Homo sapiens: one gene and its partners. The protein of the gene in region 2 interacts with the protein of the main gene of each other region in a pairwise test. Each region holds a gene or a part of one and is shown on either strand. Other genes may lie near its edges. The genes, in order: DDX11, PRRC2B and EXOSC7.

The links.
Region 1: the proteins of PRRC2B (region 2) and DDX11 interact in a two-hybrid assay, tested with the Homo sapiens proteins (one large-scale study listed by BioGRID).
Region 3: the proteins of PRRC2B (region 2) and EXOSC7 interact in a two-hybrid assay, tested with the Homo sapiens proteins (one large-scale study listed by BioGRID).

What each region holds. Positions count from the first base shown.
Region 1 is NC_000012.12:31,101,304-31,104,949, forward strand, and holds the end of DDX11 (ATP-dependent DNA helicase DDX11), read left to right. Parts: intron 1-529; coding exon 530-679; intron 680-939; coding exon 940-1,008; intron 1,009-1,123; coding exon 1,124-1,224; intron 1,225-1,632; coding exon 1,633-1,717; intron 1,718-2,013; coding exon 2,014-2,092; intron 2,093-2,273; coding exon 2,274-2,428; coding exon of another isoform or gene 2,429-2,503; coding exon 2,504-2,533; coding exon of another isoform or gene 2,534-2,730; 3' UTR 2,731-3,496; downstream 3,497-3,646. UniProt on the Homo sapiens protein: DNA-dependent ATPase and ATP-dependent DNA helicase that participates in various functions in genomic stability, including DNA replication, DNA repair and heterochromatin organization as well as in ribosomal RNA synthesis.
Region 2 is NC_000009.12:131,481,039-131,484,684, reverse strand, and holds part of PRRC2B (protein PRRC2B), read right to left. Parts: intron 2,960-3,646; coding exon 2,877-2,959; intron 2,315-2,876; coding exon 2,123-2,314; intron 1,976-2,122; coding exon 1,778-1,975; intron 1,327-1,777; coding exon 1,240-1,326; intron 1-1,239.
Region 3 is NC_000003.12:45,000,105-45,003,750, reverse strand, and holds part of EXOSC7 (exosome complex component RRP42), read right to left. Parts: intron 2,214-3,646; coding exon 2,143-2,213; intron 1-2,142. UniProt on the Homo sapiens protein: Non-catalytic component of the RNA exosome complex which has 3'->5' exoribonuclease activity and participates in a multitude of cellular RNA processing and degradation events.

The DNA of each region.
Region 1 (3,646 bases), on a different chromosome or scaffold from region 2:
AGGTCTGAGCTTCCCCGCCCCTCACGCCTTAGGCTGCGAAATATGTATTCATAAAACCTCCAGGCATCCTCTGAGGACGCCTCACACAGGAGAAAGCTGCTAGTTCCCTTTGGCTCTCTTGCCCTTTGGTTATATCTGCCCCTGCCGGGGGTAGGGATGTGGGGCTTGGGGGCATCTCCTGTGGTGTGCCTGGGGTGTGCAGCCCCTGATTGTCGTTGTGGTGCCCATCAGGACCCTGGACAGAAGAAGGGAGGACTCAGTGCCAGGGCAATAGGGAGGCCCCCTAGGGACGCTAGTGCTGTGACATGTGTCAGAAAGGCGCAGTCAGCAGCAGCGGCTGGGTGTGTTTGGTGGGAGGTGGCACCTACCACCCCGTGGTTCCCACCCAGGGGAGCCAAGTCCTCTTCCTTGGCTGTAGTCCTGCCGAGGGTCTCTCCTCAGTTTTGAGTCTCAAGGTGAAGACGCGGTTTGTGGGTGGCTGAGGGGTTGCTCCATGGGGGCTCCCTCCCTCCCTCCTTTCCTTCCTTAGATGGACGAGGTGGGTCGCATTCTCTGTAACCTGTGCGGTGTGGTTCCTGGAGGGGTGGTCTGTTTCTTCCCCTCCTACGAGTACCTGCGCCAGGTCCATGCCCACTGGGAGAAGGGTGGCCTGCTGGGCCGTCTGGCTGCCAGGAAGAAGGTGAGTGGCCTGTCGGCAGCCTTCCCACTTGTGAGGACAGTGCCACTGAGTCCTCCTGGGAGCTCTCGTGCTCATCGGGTCAGGACAGGCTTCTGGCTCCTCATCCCCACCGCTCCCAGTCCCTGACTACAGAGGATTTCCCCCAAAGTCCCTGGCTGTGAGGTTCTCCAGTCCCCTGGCCAGAAAACACAAGGCCACGAGCAGACTCGAGACCTGGCACCCTGAACCTGTCTCTGGGAAATGTCCTCTGTCTTTCTCAGATATTCCAGGAACCTAAGAGCGCACACCAGGTGGAGCAGGTGCTGCTGGCATATTCCAGGTGCATCCAGGTGCGGGCGTCATGCTGGGCTTGGGTCTGAGATCGTGTGGGGGTGGCAGCTGGAAACGTTGTGGGTGTCATCCAAGTTTTGGCTCAGCAACTCAGCGTCTGGGTTTCTCCTACAGGCCTGTGGCCAGGAGAGAGGCCAGGTGACAGGGGCCCTGCTCCTCTCTGTGGTTGGAGGAAAGATGAGTGAAGGGATCAACTTCTCTGACAACCTAGGCCGGTAAGTAGTGGTTCTGCTCGTCTCCTGGGCCGTGATACATGGCCGGCCCTCACTCCCAGCAGCTGGGCCCCTGCCTGCTCTCTGCTGCCATTAGAGCCCACAGCTGGGCTGCGACTGCTCAGACCAGCCAGCTGGAGGGAGGGGCTCAGCAGCTCTGGGTTTGGTCCTGGGAGAGCAGTTGGATTTTAGGCTACCCATTGCTGTATCAGGACCCAGTCAATTGGCCTAGACGGGATCTCTCAGCCGAACAAGCCCTCTCCAGGTGGTAGGTACAGAGTGGAGAGAGGCTGAGTTTTGATCACAGTCGGAGAGGCTGAGGGAAGGGGTAGAACGGAGCAGCTGGTGACGTGGGTGATGACCCGGGAGGTCCTGACGTCCACCTGCTGGGCTCTTGTCTCCCCCGCCCAGGTGTGTGGTGATGGTGGGCATGCCCTTCCCCAACATCAGGTCTGCAGAGCTGCAGGAGAAGATGGCCTACTTGGATCAAACCCTCGTGAGTGACCCCAGTGTCACAGAGGGTGACAGGAGAGTAGGCAGTGGGTGGGAGTGGCATCACCCCCAGGGCTGATACAGCCAGGCCTTCCCCGCTGCGCTGGCGTCTCCTGCCCCCTCCGGAAGCTTGGATGCCCCTCCACACCCTCTTGATCTTCCCTGTGATGTCACCTGGACCCCTGCTGCTGGCATTGGCCACGAAGCCTCCTGGTCTGGCTCCAAAGCCTGGCAGGGTCTTTTCCCAGGGGGAGCTGCAGGCAGGGAACAGTCCTGATGGGTCTTCCCCTTCACTCCCAGCCCAGAGCCCCCGGCCAGGCACCCCCAGGGAAGGCTCTGGTGGAGAACCTGTGCATGAAGGCCGTCAACCAGTCCATAGGTGAGCCTGGCTGCCTCCAGCTGGGTGGACAGATGGGGGCTGGAGAAAGGGAGAACAGGAAAGAGGGGTTGCCTGCCCTGTTTCCTATATAAGTCTGAGGAAGGGGAGGGGGTCGCCGTGGGAATGTGCTGTAGGGGGGAGGCAGGTGTTGCTCGGAGCCCCAGCCTCTGTTCCTATGCAGGCAGGGCCATCAGGCACCAGAAGGATTTTGCCAGCGTAGTGCTCCTGGACCAGCGATATGCCCGGCCCCCTGTCCTGGCCAAGCTGCCGGCCTGGATCCGAGCCCGTGTGGAGGTCAAAGCTACCTTTGGCCCCGCCATTGCTGCTGTGCAGAAGGTCAGTCCTACCTTTTTCTTTCTGAGAGCCTCCCCACCCCGAGATCACATTTCTCACTGCCTTCTGTCTGCCCAGTTTCACCGGGAGAAGTCGGCCTCTTCCTGATGGGCAACCACACCACTGCCTGGCGCCGTGCCCTTCCTTTGTCCTGCCCGCTGGAGACAGTGTTTGTCGTGGGCGTGGTCTGCGGGGATCCTGTTACAAAGGTGAAACCCAGGAGGAGAGTGTGGAGTCCAGAGTGCTGCCAGGACCCAGGCACAGGCGTTAGCTCCCGTAGGAGAAAATGGGGGAATCCTGAATGAACAGTGGGTCCTGGCTGTCCTTGGGGCGTTCCAGGGCAGCTCCCCTCCTGGAATAGAATCTTTCTTTCCATCCTGCATGGCTGAGAGCCAGGCTTCCTTCCTGGTCTCCGCAGGAGGCTGTGGCAGCTGTGGCATCCACTGTGGCATCTCCGTCCTGCCCACCTTCTTAAGAGGCGAGATGGAGCAGGCCCATCTGCCTCTGCCCTTTCTAGCCAAGGTTATAGCTGCCCTGGACTGCTCACTCTCTGGTCTCAATTTAAAATGATCCATGGCCACAGGGCTCCTGCCCAGGGGCTTGTCACCTTCCCCTCCTCCTTCCTGAGTCACTCCTTCAGTAGAAGGCCCTGCTCCCTATCCTGTCCCACAGCCCTGCCTGGATTTGTATCCTTGGCTTCGTGCCAGTTCCTCCAAGTCTATGGCACCTCCCTCCCTCTCAACCACTTGAGCAAACTCCAAGACACCTTCTACCCCAACACCAGCAATTATGCCAAGGGCCGTTAGGCTCTCAACATGACTATAGAGACCCCGTGTCATCACGGAGACCTTTGTTCCTGTGGGAAAATATCCCTCCCACCTGCAACAGCTGCCCCTGCTGACTGCGCCTGTCTTCTCCCTCTGACCCCAGAGAAAGGGGCTGTGGTCAGCTGGGATCTTCTGCCACCATCAGGGACAAACGGGGGCAGGAGGAAAGTCACTGATGCCCAGATGTTTGCATCCTGCACAGCTATAGGTCCTTAAATAAAAGTGTGCTGTTGGTTTCTGCTGAGTTTTTTATTGATATGTGCTGCTGTTTTCTCTGGAAGCCTCTTTAGGGAATCGAGGAGCGCACTGGTGCAGGGGCTGGGTGGAGCCATCCTCCGATGGAGCACAGGCAGACGGAAGCCCCCACCCCAGCTGCGTGGCCTCAAGCCAGCCT
Region 2 (3,646 bases):
TGGAGAGGAGGAAAAGGAAACCATGGAACACAAACAGGTGCAGAGATGGCTTTGCCCAAACCCATCCATGGCTCTCCTGAACACACTCAAGGCTCGTCCAAATGTATCTATGACTTGCCCAAACCCATCCATGGCTTTTCCCAAAAGCACCTACAGCTCCGTGTCTATGAATTGTCCAAATGCATCTTCAGTATTGGCCACATGTACCCAAGACCACCCAGATGAAACTGATGGCAGCCAGGACCATGACTGATCTCCTGGAGATGGCTGCCTCCATCAGTTTCCTCCACACAAGTCTGCAGAGAGCCACCCCCATATCCACACTCCATAGTGCCCTCCAGACAGGGAGAGCCATGTCCCGGCAGTATAAATATGGACTGGCAGCCCGCACACAAACATCTGGTTCAGAAGGCACCTGCCACCTGGCCTGGAGATGCCCTGGGCCAGACAGGGAAGGCTGTGCCCCTCAGCAAACTGAAAAAGAGGGCTCTGGTAACAGAGGCTGGAAATGCAACAGTGCCCCCGCTTCCTGCAGATCCCCGGTGTCCATCTGCATGTGACAGAGACCGCAGACTCTCGAGTAAAGAACCTCGTAGAGCCCAGCACTTCCAAAACATTGTTTTCATTCAACACCTATGAATATTGTACAGCACTCACATTCCTTGGAATCCTCTGGGAAACGCTGCCCAAATGATACTCGTTCATTCAGCATATGCACTAGCACCCACCCCTGCAGGTGGTGAGGACAGAGCAGTGAACCAGATGTCACTGCGACAGCCTCAGCTGCAGCCCCGAGTGGCCACAACAGATGCAACTGCCAGCTCCTGAGCCCATGGTAGAGCGCCAGCAGGTCTTCTGGATCACAACAGTTAGATTGCAGGCGGCAGGGACCCTTGGATGGTGAGATGGGGCCTCCTGAGGAGGGCTCTCCTACTCAATCTGTGCCCCTTACCCCTGGCCACAGAAAAGGCAGCCTGAGTCTGGGCTCGCACCTGGCACAGAGGAGACAATGGAACCAAAGAGAGCCAAATAAACCAGCCCTTAGGAACTGTATGATCCCCACTGGAAGGTCACAAAACCTGGGCAGGAACATTTAAGCACCTTTTAAGGACATGGAGCTGCTAGCAACTGAGTCACGTGCCAGCCCAGGTCAGCCTGAAATACATGTGCTGTCTCCTTCACCCAGGGCCTGCCAGCCCCAAGCAGTGAGTGGAGCCAAAAGTGGAAGTGTGGACTTACATTACTGGCCAAGGCATCCTGAAGTTTAACAACTGGACTCCCAGTAGGACCAGAGGCAGAACCAGGTGGCAAGCTGAAATCGGAGTCCTGAAAAAATAAAAAAGGCCACACAGCCCACTGAGATCCTCCTGGCCCTACATTCCCCAGAGGCATACATTAACGTGATGCAGTTTCCCCGACTCAAAAACTCCACTGAGCAGCATTCACTGGAGCCACATATGAGCGAGATGGCCAGATTTTCCCCACGGCACAGGAGACAGGACGCCAGCCTCACTTCTTTCTCCCTGTCCCTTGGGTGGCCTGACAGAAACAGGGAAGATCACTGGCCTGTCTGGTGTCAGTGAAGCAATCTTTAAAGCAACTCAACAGAGCACTGGCCATGTGCAGGACTCCACACCAACACTCTAGCCGCTGGAAGACTGCTTGGCTCCCATCCTTCTATTCCTTCTAGGAGACAATCCCATCTGAGCCCCCAGCCTCTCCAAGTACCAAAATAAAAAGTAAAAAAAGCAAGCAAGAAAACAAATCAAAGCCTCACTTTTGGACTGACTCCAAATTCAATGGGTGGCACAGGCAGCACGGAGTCCACGTGAATCTCCACCCCGTTAACAGGCGGGACGACAGCCCCTTGCAGCCGCTCGGCCCCCTCCGAGCCCTTTCTGTTTTTCAGAGAACGCTCGTTGCCGATGGGTCCTGGTCTGTGCTCCTTGCTCTGTCCAGAGCCTTGTTCTGAATCCTTGATAAAAAAGCAGAGAGGTGGAGACACACAGACTGGAATGACCACACTCTCTAGCTTCTACTGTCCCAGGAATTGAGGAAGATGATGAGACGATGGCCCCTTCCACCCAGGCCCTGGCCACTGTGACTGGAACGTCCAGGTTACCTTCTGCTCAGATGGCTTTGGAGCCTGCTCCTTGTGGCTGTCGGCCTTGGGTTCCGCCAGGCCGGGCCCGCTCATCTCCTCTGGCTTCAGAGTCCCATATGGGGAGCTGCGCTGCGAGGAGGTCGCAGACGACTCCCGAGACTCGGCACTCAAGTCAACGCCACTATCTCCCTGGCTGCTCTTAAAACCCTGCTGTGCAGAGCACAAAATGGGTTATAGCCTCAAACTCCCAACTCGATTATCCAGAGAGTAAAACTGCATGTGGCACAGAGACTTTTCTACCCCAGCTGCCTGTCCCTTGCCAAGTCTGGTCCTGATCTTGATCCTGCCCTGCTGAGGATGCCTGACAACTTACGTGTGGCCAAACACACCAACCCCGATAGAGCTCGTGACCACAGGATCTTCTATGGGCCCCAGACCGAGGCTGCCAAACCCATCTCACTTGTGACCCAAACCAGACTACGTGGCTGCTGACACCAGTTCAGAGGAGGCCCTGAATCCCTCTTCCCACCCAGCGTTGGGTCCTCCCTTGTTACCCCTTTTCTCTTTCTCCTGCTCATGCACGCCCCATGCACAGGCCAGAAATCAAGATGGAAAACCACTGATGAGCTTGGCCCCATGGAAACAACCTAATTCCAAGCTCAGCTGCTGTGGCAGGGGCTTGGGTGGGCCACAGCAAGCTGGCCGTGTGGATGGTGAGCACACACTCACACACTCATCCCAGGGGCAGCATGTGGGCAGCGGCCACACTCACCTCCGCAGAGCCAGTCTCGGTGCTGCTGAAGGCAGTGACAGCTTTCCTCCAGGAGTCGTTGGCTGGGGCCTGCACAGGGAGAGCTGCCAGGGGAGGAAGACAGAGTCAGGGCATCAAAGAGCAACCCGTCTAGAGAGTTTATGAGCTCTTAAAGAACAAGCACAGGCACAGCTTGCAGAAATCCAACTCCCCTGCCTCCCCTGCACCCGCCACCCCAGCCCCCTACCCGTGACACCCAGTGAACGGCTCTGACGTGGAAGAGCTGGTCTGACAGCCTTACCCAACTTTCCACATCCTCACCCAACGTGTTTCTCAACATCTCATGGATTACAGGAGAGAGTGAGCAGGGCAGAGCCCTCACTCCTGCCAATCTGGATTCTCTGTCGTTATTTCCGCTATGCTCATGCTTCTTTTCACTTATACTATTTCTAAAAGTTGGTAGCTTCTCTTTTTTTACATTAAAAAATATATCTTTCTTTTTTTTTTTTTTTTTTTTTGGAGACGGAGTCTTGCTCTGTCGCCCAGGCTGGAGTGCAGTGGCGCGATCTCCACTCACTGCCAAGCTCTGCCTCCCGGGTTCACGCCATTCTCCTGCCTCAGCCTCCCGAATAGCTGGGACTATAGGTGCCCGCCACCACGCCCGGCTAATTTTTTGTTGTTGTTGTATTTTTAGGAGCGACGGGGTTTCACCATGTTAGCCAGGATGGTCTCGATCTCCTGACCTGGTGATCTGCCTGCCTCAGCCTCCCAAAGTGGTGGGATTACAGACG
Region 3 (3,646 bases), on a different chromosome or scaffold from region 2:
CAGAAGGTGTGGGATGCTTCTGGGGTGCTGGCAACATTCTGTTTCTTCAGCTGGGTACTGAAAAACACATTTAACCTATAAAGTCAATTCACTCCAGGCTGGGTTGGAGGAGCCAGGAAGGAAGAGGTGGTCCATCCAGCTACTGTAATGGAAACAGCATTAGTACTTTTCCCAGTTCCTCTAACAAAACCCCCCATGATTGAGCCCTGCTGGCCATCCATACACAAGGCAACATCTAGATCAGATCAGGGGAGCTTCAGCCAGAGAATGTTGACAAGGGCCAAGGAGTTCTGTAAGGGTCTTCCCCATTTGGAGCCTTCCCATCAGAGGAAGTTCTACTAAGTAATATCCTATTTGAACAAGTTGTCAACCATTTACACACACACATACACACACACACGCACGCACGCACGCACGCACGCACAGTATCTCCCAATTTCCCAACCCTTTGGCTACAACAAGCCTGGGCAGAAGGGCTAAAGAATACCCTCAGGTGGCCTTTACCCTTCTAAAGGACCCTGAATATGCCAATAGTCTCTCCACATACCAGGGGGACTTGATGCCTTAGAGTCCCCATTCCTTGCTGCCTGCAGGGCTGTTCTTGGTCTGAGGATGAGACTATGGCTGTGCCCATGACAGGTGTCCTCCCCTACCTGAGCAGCTGGGTTAACCTTTCTGGTATACAGTTTGGCCAGCAACTCCCCCACAGCTAAACAGCCTTGTCTGGTTCCCAATCTCTCTTTTTGCCTGGGTGCCTATAGGAACCAGCTGGCAGATGGGGAGTCATTTCTGAGGCTCAAGATAAATCAGATGACAGCTTCCTTTCCTTCCCCAACAGGGCCCGAGCACCAGCTACTGCTGTGGGATCTGGCACGCAAGCTCCCACGGTGGCCAAGAGTGCCAGGCTCACATTTCAAATAGTCTCAACAAGGAGCCTAGTGGCACAGCTAGGGGTGGGGGACTCTACAGCTTTCATTCTCAGCAAATATTCCAGCCTGCAATTTTTGTCTGCTCTAAATTACACAGGGAGTCTAAACTCATCATAGAAAAGCTCTAAAAAACAGGTAAATGTTATGTTGGCCAAAATATGAGCACTGAAAAATAATTACAGTGATTACTTGGGGGTACATATTTCCAGACACATTACATATAAGAACTACCAAAGTAAAATACAACAAACCAACAAACAAAAACCAGGATGAGGGGACTGCATTTAGTGAACTATTTTCCATATTAACATGCCTTTAAATAGGCTGCTGTGTGGACTTCAATCCCCTCCATTGTGAAACTCAGGTTGTTTCCAGTTTCTTACCATTACAAAGCAGTGTAATGTTTATTCTAGGATGTGATGAACATCCTAGAATAAACATCTTTGCTCATTTATTCAATTATGTCCTTAGGTTATATCCCTAGAAGTTTCTAATCCTCGTTTTTTAATAGGATCCTCTGTTACCTTAATGTAGGCTCTCTCATAGGATGAACACCCTATCCCACGTATTTACTCATAAATGCTGCAAATTTTCCTCAAAGTACTTGGAGCATAAAAGGGGGAAAGGTCAATCAGTCAGAATAAATGTCAACTCCAAAAAAGCATAGCAACTTGTCCCTTCTACACAACCTGTTTGGAAAGCTGAACCATGTGGAATAGCCATTTCCTCTTCTTAAACCAAAGGGAAGCCTGTTACCCTGCTTTTAGAACACACATGTGTACAATCAAGCAATATGCAAGCACTTACTATGTGTCAGGTACTGTTCATGGTGCTAGGAATATAGGCAAGTACAAAACAGGCAAAATCCTTGCCCCCATAGAGTTCACCCAGTAATAGTATTTGGATAGTTGGCCTGTAGGTGGTGTCTACTCTTCTTGGCTTCTCTGTAGTTTTCTAATATTTTTCTAAATGGTAGGTGTCTATTTATAAAAATAACAATACAAAAAATAAATACAGAATATACGTATATATGTAGTTTTAATTCACGAAATCTATCTTTTCTGGAGTTTAACGTTAGATGTCACCATTTTCAATGTTAAAACCCCCTGTTATCTTCACATATGAGCTACAATAGAAATTTCCTCAGTGTTCCATTACAAGTGTCTGCTCTGGTTCTCCACAGGTTCGCAGAGCTGTTTCTAGGAAGACTTACCTTGTATTGAAGAGAGCAGCCTTTACAGCAATGGAAATGGCATCAAACAAATTTCCACCACATTCCAGAAGCTAAGGGAGACAGGAATTGAAAAAGGAAAAAAAACCAAGCATCACTTATTACTTTAGGTATTACCCCAGTTAAAGGACACTGCTTTTTTTTTTTTGAGACAGAGTCTCGCTCTGTCACTCAGGCTGGAGTGCAGTGGTGCAATCTTGGCTAACTGCAACCTCTGCCTCCCAGGTTCAAGTAATTCTCCCACCTCAGCCTCCCGAATAGCTGGGATTACACGTGTGCGCCACCACCCCCAGCTAATTTTTGTATTTTAGGGTTTCACCATGTTGGCCAGGCTGGTCTTGAACTCCTGACCAAAAGTGATCCGCCTACCTCAGCCTCCCAAAGTGCTGGGGTATAGGCATGAGCCACCACGCCCGGCCAGGACACCGATTTTTTTTTTTCTTTCCCTAAATCTATTCTGTGGTCAAGGACACTGATTTCTAAGAAATGCTGACTGTGTGTTTATAAAATAAAGATAACATGTGGCTTCTCTCCTGGCTAGCCATGCAGTGACTGCAACTCACTGACACAGTCCTTCACCCTAATTACAGGCACTGCCTTGTCATAGCTGTGCTTACGTGGCCCATGCACACAAGGTCACAGTTGGCAGGGCTGTGGTACCAACACTCAGAGGCCATGGCTTGTGGGTGGGCTCCTCTCACAGGCACTTCAGGCAGTTGGGGCTGCCCTGAAGGTGGGACTGATCACCTTTATTTTGCCCCAGATAGCTCCCAATTGTACTCCAAGTGTTACTCTAATCTTTGCTAACATATGCCTGGCCTCCAAACAAGGAGAAAACGGTGGCTACTGATGTTGCGGCTGCTACTAGGTTCACATTTACTAGTGTAATTACTTCTCGTATGTAATGATCAATGTATATCTGATGCTCAGACATGAAATACTACATGTTTTACATTACTTATAATGAAGACTAAAGTCTCTCAGACAAGCTTCTGCCCATGAGCGAAAGTGTTGAGTGCACTTACGTATGCTCATCTAGCAGGGAAAATTAGAGCACATTTAACTGGAAGGTGGCATATCCTTCTGTCCTCATTTTAGAGAGGCCTTGGCCTGAGGTTATGGAATAAAGCCGACTGGGCTGCCCCAAATAAGAAAGGTGAGAAGTCACACATAGAAAGAAAAGTCATGTAGTTCTGTTTTTGTTTAGAGTCTATCTCCTCTGCAGTTGAACTGTGAACTCCTAAAGGCTGGGACTCTGTAGTTTTGTTCATCCTTTTATCCCCAGAGCCCAACAGAAGGGGTGCTATGAGGAAGAAGGTTAGTGATTATTTGTGAAAGAACCCATCAAAAGACAGGCTTGTGACCAATCACCCCACCAAAGGTCAGCTGTGTGTTGTTAGTGCAGCAAAGTTCTAACAGGTTTCCCTCTTGGAGTAAAAACTGATGCCATTAGAGAACTATAAAGAGCAAAGCAAAGTGAAATTTC